3 linked regions of the Homo sapiens genome follow. The protein of the gene in region 3 purifies or fractionates together with the protein of the main gene of each other region. This does not show direct contact. Each region holds a gene or a part of one and is shown on either strand. Other genes may lie near its edges.

Evidence for each region.
Region 1: the proteins of BRINP1 (region 3) and BMP8A purify together in Homo sapiens (affinity purification with mass spectrometry; one large-scale study listed by BioGRID and IntAct). This does not show direct contact.
Region 2: the proteins of BRINP1 (region 3) and TTC13 purify together in Homo sapiens (affinity purification with mass spectrometry; one large-scale study listed by BioGRID and IntAct). This does not show direct contact.

The regions. Positions count from the first base shown.
Region 1 is NC_000001.11:39,526,055-39,529,706, reverse strand, and holds part of BMP8A (bone morphogenetic protein 8A preproprotein), read right to left. Parts: 3' UTR 1-3,652. UniProt on the Homo sapiens protein: Induces cartilage and bone formation. May be the osteoinductive factor responsible for the phenomenon of epithelial osteogenesis. Plays a role in calcium regulation and bone homeostasis.
Region 2 is NC_000001.11:230,919,803-230,923,454, forward strand, and holds part of TTC13 (tetratricopeptide repeat protein 13 isoform a precursor), read right to left. Parts: intron 1,703-3,652; coding exon 1,619-1,702; intron 793-1,618; coding exon 708-792; intron 1-707.
Region 3 is NC_000009.12:119,212,436-119,216,087, forward strand, and holds part of BRINP1 (BMP/retinoic acid-inducible neural-specific protein 1 precursor), read right to left. Parts: intron 1,721-3,652; coding exon 1,484-1,720; intron 1-1,483. UniProt on the Homo sapiens protein: Plays a role in neurogenesis and brain development. May suppress cell cycle progression in postmitotic neurons by inhibiting G1/S transition.

The sequences.
Region 1 (3,652 bases), on a different chromosome or scaffold from region 3:
GGAAGGAATTATGAACAGTGGTTATCTCTGTGATTGATTATGGGTGTTTGTATTCTGGTTTTTGTTATTTTCAAAATTTTCCCCAGCACACAGATAACATTTTCTTACGTGAGAAAAAATTTTTTTTAAAAAGCAGGGGGTGGAGAGCGGCAACTGTTTGCTCAAGACTTTTCAGTAAGGAAAGGAACCTGGGGTAGAAAGCTCCCCCTTCAGCTGCCCATGAGGGCACAGGTGGGCCCCACACTCACTACGGGGCCAGGGCAGGGCCGCACACCTGCCACTTCCTCAGCAGAGACCCTAGCGCGTGGGTCACTGCTGGCCCAGACTCCTTCCACGAGCAGGCGAGTGTGCAGGGCCACACCTCATCCAAGAGATGATCACGTTTAGGTTTTTGATGAAAAGCATAGCTCTCAGGTAAATACAGCAGCACCTCTAAGCATATTCTGGGAGGAGTGGGTTTTATGAGGAAGGCACACAAGGAACGCCCAAATTTGCAAGTCCCTTTAAAATGAGCCTGCTCAGAATTGCTGTTTATTCCACAGGTCTGCGCAGGCATGGCACTAAGTGTCCCATGGCACATTTGGCCCTCATGGAGGCCTCAAAAGGGCAGGACCAGCACCCTCTTCTACGGAGGAAGGAACGGGCACAGCAGGTACATGATGTGGTCAAATTAACAAGAGGCAGAGGCCGGGTAAGTGGCTCACGCCTGTAATCCTAGCACTTTGGGAGGCTGAGGCAGGAGGATTGCTTGAGCTCAGGAGTTCAAGACTGGCCTGGGCAAAGTTTAAGACCGGCCTGGGCAACATAGTGAGACCTGGTTTCTATAAAAAATTTAAAAATTAGCTGGGTATGGTGGCGTGTGCCTGTCATCCCAGCAACTCGGGCTGAAGTGGGAGGATTGCTTGAGCCCAGCAGGTTGAGGCTGCAGTGAGCCATGACACTGCCACTGCACTCCAGCCTGGGCGACAAAGCAAGACCATGTATGTCTTTAAAAAAAAAAAAAAAAAGGCAGCCAGGACCTGATGCCAGGTCGACTTGGCTCCAAAACCTGCCCTCTCCTTTTCACAGCCTCCTTTCCTGTGAAATAATAGGGAATTTCTCTAAAGCGCATCGCCCGGTCCCTATGTAAAGACAAAGAAACAGGACTTTGCACGCTCACCTGGCATTAGGGCCAGCACTGTGCTGCAGTTGTGAAGATGGCCACTGGGTTGGGGGTTGTTCTGCACCAAATGGCCCCAGACTCCCTGTCAGTGGCTACTTGTTGCAGCCAGTGGGCCTGAGCTGACCACCCTTATTTATGCTCCTGATGTGCAGCCTTGAATGCATCCTGGGCTGTGGGAGGCAACCAGGCCAGAAGATGACCTTGATAGCTGAGCACTGACCCTTCATCAGCTGTGTGTCCTTACGACCTCCTCCCTTTCTGAGGCCTTCTGTATGTGATGTCATTTGGTGGGTGGCTAAAGTTGCTAGAAGTCTGGCCACCAGGAAGGCCACGACTGTCACACTTTGTGCTTTGCTGCATAAAAAGGGAGTCTCATCATGATCCTCAGGCCTGCTGTGCACACCTGATGGGCATAGCAGCGTTTGCGTCTTGAAAACATTCATTTCACAAACTCCTAGCACACCCAAACCATGCCAGGTTACACACTGGGCACTGAAGAGACCACACATTTGTCAGTTTCCGAAACTCTACTGCCCAGTATTGGAAGAAGAGAGCTGTTAAATCAGGTCCTGCAATGGCAGATAGGCCCCAAGTCCTATGGCAGCAGGGGGCTCAGGCCATGTCTCAAGCTCTGGGAGAAGGTCATGGGGGCAGATGGGTTCTCTGGGTTGGAAGAGCCTTTGGAATTAAAGAGTCCTATGTCCTCATGTTGCAGATGAGAAACTGAAGCGTGAATAAGAAAGGGGACTTGTCCTGACACCAAGTCAGTGGCTGAGTTGGAACCAGAATACCTGTCTCCTAACACTCAGGCCATTGCCTCTTCCAATCTCTGCTAGCTGAGCTTGAAGCCTTAGACTAGTGGGGAACTCACCATCTTCCAGACAGCCTGGGCCCACCCTTTATGTACATGAGAGGGTCTCTTCCTCTGCGCTTGCACATGGAGGCCCTCCCTGGTCCAGGTGGAGGGGCTGCTGTCCCGCAGTGTGGCCCCAGCCTCCACCCCTGCTGCTGGACCAGCTCTCCCCAGGCCCCTCCCTGGGGGTGCAGCACGTGAACTCCAGAGAGGCGCATCCTTGGGCCCATGGGGAGGTGGAACCACTCTGCCAGGCTGTGCCTGTGGATGGGGCGGGCCCAGGATCTGCTTTTAATGACACGGTTTGGGCAGCTGGACTCTGTCTGTTCCAGCAGGTAAATTACAGGCTTAGCAAGTCAGAAATCAAATAAACACTCCAACTCCCAGTGGCTGTTCCAAGGAGAACAGCGGTTTCCGGGAACAGTGGAGGCCGAGACAAACCTCCCCACCCAACTCAGCCTAATTACTGCCTGTCACTCCCTGGGACAGGGACCTTTTCTTTGACTCACAGACCCAAGACACAGGACAGCGCTGGTGGGCACCCAGGGTGACGCCAATTTTGGTGGCCAGCTTGTTCATAACTCCTAGACACAAGCAAACACTGGCAGTCCCCACCCTTGCCCCATGCCTGGCCGGAGACTGCCAGTCACCCTGCTTTGGATGGAATGGATTGCTCTGCAGTGGGGCAGGAGGGGGAACTGAGGTCTTATTGACAATGCCTGGTGGTGGCTGTCTGCAGTTCTGTGCTGAGGCCTGGAGGCCCTGTCCTGGTTCAGTGGGAAAGGTACGTAGGTTGATTACTGACATGAGCCATGGGCAAGGGGAGCAGGCTGCGGGGGCATTTGCTCTGTGCCAGCCTACACTACATGTTGGAGCTGCTGGTCTTGCCTCTGTCTCAGTGCTGAGCCCCAAATGGGTCAGCATGGTAGAGATGGTGGAGGGAACTGGAAGCCCCCAGGATTCTTTGCTCCTGTGGGAGTCATACCTCTTTCCCAGGCAGGAGAAGGGGCAGGCCCAGGGCAAGGGAATACACATGACATAAAATATCCCCAGTGGCCAGGCACGGTGGCTCATGCCTGTCATCCCAACACTTTGGGAGGCCGGGCGGGTGGATCACCTGAGGTCAGGAGTTCAAGACCAGCCTGGCCGATATGGTGAAACCCCGTCTCTACTAAAAATACAAGAATGAGCTGGGCGTGGTGGTGGGCCCCTGTAATCCCAGCTACTCAGGAGGCTGAGGCACGAGAATTGCTTGAACCTGGGAGGCAGAGGTTGCAGTGAGCCAGGATTGCACCACTGCACTCCAGCCTGGGTGACAGAGTGAGACTCTATCTGGAAAAAAAAAAAAAAAATCCCCAGTGGCTTCGTGGGGATGTCCAGCTTATTCTTTTTCTAATATGCTAACTGCACCCTGGACCAAATGAGAAGAATCCCAGAACACACTGTGCTGAGAACATAAGCGTGTCCAATTTTGCCCAGAAATGGCCAGTGTTGTACCTGGGAAGAGGCAGAGCCCTTCTCCTCACACCTAAACCCTCTGGTGAATGGAGAAAAGCTCGGGTCAGCCAACCTCAGACCATCCGGGGCCAGCCACAGTCTGACAGGTCCTAAGATAGGACTTCTGTGCTGACTCCAGA
Region 2 (3,652 bases), on a different chromosome or scaffold from region 3:
CAAGGCCGAAACTCCAATGTCTCTCAGCACATACACCTCTGATACCTCTGCTCAGCTTTCGTTCCCACAGTAGCCACTCTCTGCTGAGCCTCTCATGGTCTTTTATTGCATGTTCATGACCAAGGTCTTAGTCAAGGATGAAAAGGAGTGCTCACATTAACCCCTGAGCACTCCCCAGCCTACATGGCCTCCTTCTCTCCTATACTCTGCTCTGCAAATTCCAGCCACTTTGGCAGAACCAAACTCCACTCTCTACCTCCTTAGCTTAGCAAGACCACTGTACTCTGCTTGGGCTCCACATTACCGTGCAGTGGTCTAATAAATACCACAGTAGAAAGCTGGGGTGACAGTGGGATTCACATTATTGTAATTAGCCAGTGCCTGAAAATAACTAACTTTTGTCCAGTTTTATAACTGCAATCATGTAGAAGGGCAGCTGAGTACCAGTTACTCAGCTGTGGCCAGAAGCAGAATTCAATTATATGTATTTTTAAGTTTTCTTTTTTCTATATTAACTGCTTCCTCACAAGTTGTTTTTTCTGTTTGAGTCTGATGCCTGTAGGTTCTTTTATTTTGGTTATTATTCAGAATGTGTTCATACGAGTGATTTCAAATAGCATTTAATAATTCTGAGTTCTTTTTAAAAAAGTGCTGTTGGTTTTCTTTTCCTCTAAAAACATGGACTGCCATTCTGATGCTAAAGTTACCTTCATAATCGGAAGAAGGTCTTCTACTTTGTGTACCTTTTCCAGGGCTTCCCGAACTTCCAGCAATCCTTTAGGATTATTAGCTCTTAAAGAGAGACAGAGAGAGATGGCAACTGAGATTAATGCAGAATTGTAATAATTAATCATGCAATTATCTTTAATTTAAATAAATTGACCTCAATTTTGAGTAGCTAAACATTCAAAATGGTAGGCCACAAATAAACCTTCCAAATAACGGGATAGTTCAATTCTAATGAGTTTTGGACTGCAGATGAAAATTAAGGAAACAGCAGCAGATGAGAATTAAGGAAACATCTAGAAGGCAAAACAGGAAAAAGCAGAATGGATCAAAAGCCAGTGTTTGTGTGAACATGTATGGTTATGAGTTTGGTTCTTAAACTCTGATTTTCCTATTCCAGCTCTAAAATTATATGTGGATGTTTTGTGTTGTTTTTTTCCTTTCTAAAGCTGCTCAAATGAAAGTATTCTGCTAGGTTTTTCCACCGATTTTATATTTACTTGGTGATATTTAAGCATTCAGATTTTTTTTCTCCTAGTGTTCTGCTCATTGTTTTGTCTATCCCATCCTGCCTTTCAAGTGAAGGAGAGTAAGTATTAAAGCTGAAATCCCTAAAAGATAAATCCAAAGAAACATCCTGCTTTATAGAAGAAAGAGACTAGAAAAGTCACAATAGTGCACATAAAGTTAAAAACACTTCAGTTGAGGTCTGTGGATTTTGTATTAAAAAGAAAGTGATTATGAAAGCCTTTACGATTCTAAACACTGTGTAAAAATTTGATAGACCTTGTTTAGCCCGTCAACAGGCTTAGTTCTCAAGTTTCAAAAATATAACAAATATAAAACACATGAAATCAACTCATTACTAAGAAGGAGAAAATTAAAGGCTTACCCATGATAAACAAGAATTCTGTCTTTAATAAAATGAAGTATTTTCTCAAAATATTCTAGGTATCTCATGTTGATCACCTGACCCCTATAAGGCAAAAATAATAAAATTAAGAATATTTTTATAGAAGAATATGCTCAAGCCAACATCTAATTTCAAAGTTAATTTAAAAAAATAAGAAACTATGAGAATAATGTAGAAAAAAAAAGTCTGGGAAATTCGCTTGTTCATAGTCAATGAGTGGTGAAGCAAAGCACCGTCTTAGCAAGACTGCCTGCCAGCTCACAGGGCCTATTCTGGCATCAAACTCAGTGCCAGATCAGCCACAATGGGAAGACAAATCCCCCAGCACTAAAGTGAGGTCCAGACTTTCATATCAGCGTCCTCTGACGGATCCCATCACTTGTGGGCAGTGTGCCGTCTCCCCTCCCTCAGTTCTCCCAACAGCATTATCCAATACCCTGTCTTGCTCTCTAGCTCACTAGCAGTCTCCTTTCCTCTACCCACTCGGAATACTCTTTTCCTCACATTTCTATCCCTTCTGATCTTTTCCTTTTAAACTCACTCCCAGAACTCCATGTTCAGCCAACATGCTGAGTCACATGACACAGCCGACTGCTCCCAGGACATCGCTCCCTGGGTTCCCACCAGGCATCTCAAACCTCAAAGGTTACTGTCAAGTAAGAATTCCCTCCTGCAACCCACACTTCTCCCAGCCTCCCCACTAAACATGTCCACCTACTTTTCGTTCTGGTGCTCTCTGGCCTAATGGGACAACCACGTACCTGAGGGAAGGTGGCCTTCCTCTAGCTCCATGCCCTTCCCACTGCAGCCCACTGCCAGTGCTCCTGATTCTATCTTCTAAGAGTCTAGCTCTTCCTCTCCAACTCACTACCACACAGCTTTTGAGGCCTTTGCACTTGTCCACCTGAACAACTACACAATTTTCCAACCTCCTCCCTTACCTCCGAGGTTCCTGCCTCCTCTCCAATCTATTTTGCCATCTTCTCCCAATGTGCAAATCTGTTCCTGTTACTTCTCTGCTTATAATCCCTGAATGGCTCACCATTGTCTTCAGGGGAAAAAATTCCTTAGCTTGGACTATAAAATGATTTATGTTCTGACTTCTGCCTATCTTTCTAGCCTTAATTCCTGATACTCCCTTAATTGCAAACTCACCACCAGGCGTAATGAGTTAGTCACAGTTTCCTGACCATACCTAACTCATCCATGGGTCCAAGTTAATCACCCCACCTCTCTCTGTTTTCCATTTTTCCAAATAGCCCTGTAGCACCAGAAGGCTTTATCAGGCACCCCTTCTCCAGGTTCCCATGGCATCCTGTGCATGTGATCAGCTCACTCTTAACACACTGCATAGTAGTTGTCTGCTGGTCTGTCTGCTGTGAGCTTTCAGCAGGTGGGGCTGTATCTCCCTTCTGTATCCCCAACACACAGCACAGCACAGCACACTGGCTGATCTACGGTAGCCTTCGATTAAAGTTAGTTGCTTGAGTCTACCTATCTATGCCACAAATTATTCCATGAGAAATAGGAATATACAAGTCACAAGGTGAAAAGAAATTTGTTTTCTAGAAATTAAAAAAATAAATATACATACAAATTATATTTCCATTAAAACCCAAACTTAAAGGTGTATAGAAAAATATTTTCTTAATTCAGCTTCCTGGAACTAGAAGCATTTTAGAGGTGACACAACTACCATATCTATACATTTTATCTAAAATTAAATTCACTAAAAGATGGGCTGATAATATAGGTCCCCAAGAAACTGATATCCTTTAATATTTGTTCACCATTTATTTAGAAGGCAGCTAGGCACATAAAGAAAGAGTGAAGAAGTGAGCATTTCACCCATGTCCCCAACTAGCAGAGCCTCTGGACAAAACAGAAGTTTTCCAGCCAACCTGACTTGCCCTCCCCAGATGGCAGCTTAGTTACCAGATAGTGTTATTTATCTAAGCCCTTTGTGTGTTGGGGTGGAATGGGGAGCCGCCCACCGTGAGAGACTCCACCACG
Region 3 (3,652 bases):
TCAGGCCTGGGGGACAAAGTAAAATTAAGTTACCAAATCTGCTGTGAGCACTAGATTTGGAATCAGGAATTCCATTACCAATCCTGCCATTTACTAACTGTGCAACCCTAGGGAAAACACTGGGTCTTGCAGGAGGATTATAGAGGAGGTGTTCCCTTCTCTGTAATTCAGAAATGTTAGTACTTCCTTTAAGGTGGCTATTATAACAGATTTAAGAAATATAATGTTGTTGTAAAGACAGGAATGCTTTTTTGCATGAGTCCATTTATTTAACAGGTACTTGAGCACATATTATATGTTAAGTACCTGCTTGGCATCTCTTCTTGGAAGTCTCAAGGATTCTCAAGCTTATCCTATAGAAAAGTGAGCACATGGTCTTCTTTCCAAATCTTTCAGGGTGTTCTAGCTCAATGAAAGATATCAACATCTATCAAGTTGTCTAACATGCCTATCTAAAGGAGGTTTATGAGTATCACCTCAATATCCCTTTTCTCTTCAACTCTTGTAGACAATCTAACATCAAGCTCTGCCATTTTTTCCTTCTAAATATGTTGGCATATCTGCACATTTCCAGTTTTTACAACTTGTACCATCTCCTTAACCCACATCATGGTCATCTCTCTCCTAGGCCCTTTGTGCCTCCCATTGGTCTACCTGTAATCACCTTCTCATATCTGCACCATAGTCAGATACTTCCATTTCTGTTCTTTTTTAAGGTAGACTTCCTTGACCACATTGACCCCCAACTCTACATCGTTTGTTCACAGCAACTCCTCCCTTTTTACAGACGTATCCTTGACATTTCCTAATCATTGGCATGGTTACATAATTAATGCCTGGCTTTCCAACAAAACTCAAATGTCCATGAAGGTAGAGATCCTACTTCAGACTTCATCCACTTTAGGAGCTTGGATGACTGTCTTTCCACCCCTGAAACTCATTTTTCTGAACTATGAAAGGCAGAAAATAACTAAGATACCAGAAAAGAGACTTTGAGCTTTGATAGTCTGTAGATTCTTTGGATATCTATATCTCTATGCATATGCACATATAAATATACACATAGAGGTATGTTTATCTAGTTATAGAGATGGACAGAAGTGTGTGGGTGCACACACAAACACATACACACACAAATATCCACACACACATACACAGCCCAAGGAATCAATACAACTACCTCTGACTCTTCCCTCTCCAGAGGCTTCCTATGCAGATTTATTCTTTCTGTCTTCTGGGTACGACAGAAACAATACATCATATGACCACAAACTGGATTATGCTATTCATTAATTTTATTCAGTTGAGATTTATTGAGTGCCTGCTCTGTGACAGCTATTATACTTGCATCTGGACACTCCAAAGTGAAAGGGTCAGGGTCACTGAACTTTCCCTTGCAGCAGTCCTAATTCCAGTTAGATTAGCTCCCTTTCAGACTTGGCTCAAGGCCACTCATGCAGTGGCACTGAGTGAGACTCTCTACCTGAATTCTCCAGGTCCTTATAAGCTTCGGCCCAAGACTTGGCCATGTTGGCCAGCGTGTACTCCATGATCTGGATGTCCGTGATGGGGCAGTTGCACTGCGGAAACTCCTCGGCACATTGGCAGCGACACTGGCTGTTCTGGCACAGGTACTCCCCCTCCCCATTGCACATGATATAGCTCAAGGCCGACTGGACAAACTTCTCTTGCAGATACTGAGGAAAGATTATCTGAAGACCTGTGTGAGAATAGCAAGAAGGGAAAACAGAAAGGTTTAAAAAAAGGTGTTTCATTAACAATTTCCAAAGGTGATACATAGGAATCTGAAGCTGCTACATTTCTCCCTGTGTATTGGAACCAATATATTTCTGGGCCAACCTAGATCCAGACAGGGTATTATTGGTGAGGCTTCCAGTTGCATCACTTTTACTTAAACTTCTCAGGTCATGACTTTGGCCATCTCTGAAAGGCATACTCTATTCTGTTATAGTAGGACTGAGGCTAGAGCCACATATGGTATATACCTTTTCCATTTGTGGAGAAAACTCTTATTGAAAATATAACATTATTGTTTATTATTCTTTATTTCCTCAAGTGCTTTCCTTAAGTATTTATATAAACCCTATTTATGAAACACAAGTTCTGAGCTAGGCACTAGGCCTGTAGAGATAAAAAAAAAAAAAAGACACAATCCTTGCCCTTGGGGAGTTTACAATATAATCAGCAGGTGTAGACATGGACGCACATCATCATAACATGGCTTTATAGACCTATAGCAGAGAGAGCCATATGAGGCAAATGAACAGCAGAAGACTGCAAATAACATTGTTTAGATAGCAGGGAAACCTTCATAGAGGAGACAGAATTTGGGCTGGTTGAAAAGCAAGTAAGAGAACACTAGGTTAAAAGAAGAACAGGAAGGACATTCTTAAAAGAGGAAAGGCATCATGTGTCTGGAAATTCCTAGTGAAGAAATGAACTTGGATGAATGGAGGTGCTCGTGCTGTAGAAAATAGCTGTAGAGAGGGACAGAGGCCAGTGTGCAAAGGGCTTTATTATATGCTAGGGAATTTGGACATTATTCTGTGGATCATAGGTACACATTGGTAGTTTTGAAGGGTACGAGTAACATAATTAGAGTGATATAATTTAATAGGACCACTGTAACATAAAAACTAACACATCACTAGACACAAGCATCACTAGATAATTAATTTTCTCTTCTTTGCTCTAACAGTGAGGAAGCCATGGTCTACCAATAGGAAGTGACCAGCCCATGGTTACAGGATTAGCACTCTGGATTACATCTCATGATCCTCTCTTTATACTTGAATATTCAAAGTCTTAATACAGAGAGCCAATGATAGAGAAGGATTTATTTGGACATGAGCACTACTCTGGTACCTATGAAAAGTCAGCAGAGTGGTCTATTGTCTGTGGTGCCCAGAGAGAAGGACAGATCTGGGCTAACTTAATTCATTAGGGCACTTTCGCTTAGGACATTTCTCTCCACCTCATTTGGAGCTGCAAACAGTTTTAGCTTCCAATATGAGGTAATGGTTCTACTACTCACTGTGTAAAAGAGAACTGTATTCTTATTTGGATTATTTTTTTTCTCATTTATGCTTCAGGGACACTCCTTAATCCAACTCATCAGGGATTTGCTCAACAAGGTCAGCATTTCTTCCATTTTCTATTCACAGTTGTTTCTAGATTTTTATCTTTTTTCCATTTTCTTCAGGTTTTATATATACTTAAATAAGCCCCATCCTTTCAACCTGTCTTCACATGGCAGCTAAAAGAGAATATTTTCAGAGGGACATTGTGGGAAAGAAGATGATTCCTCCAGCATGCCTTATGGCAGGACACCACACGCTGTAGTAAAAAACCTGGGCATGGCTGCACTGCATGCTGTAGTCAGAAACCTGGGCATGGCTGCACTGCACGGTGTGGTCAAAAACCTGGGCAGGGCTGCACTGGCTCCTCTTCTTACTACCTAAGTCATCTCAAGCAAAATATTCAGCCTGCCTGTTAGGTTCCACTTAGTATCTATGTACAAAGATTATTGAGAGGACTACATGAAAGAATGCCTACAAATTATCTGGAAAAGCTCCTGGCACATAGCAAGCAAACAATAAATGTTGTCTGTTCTTATTTTTGATGTGATGAC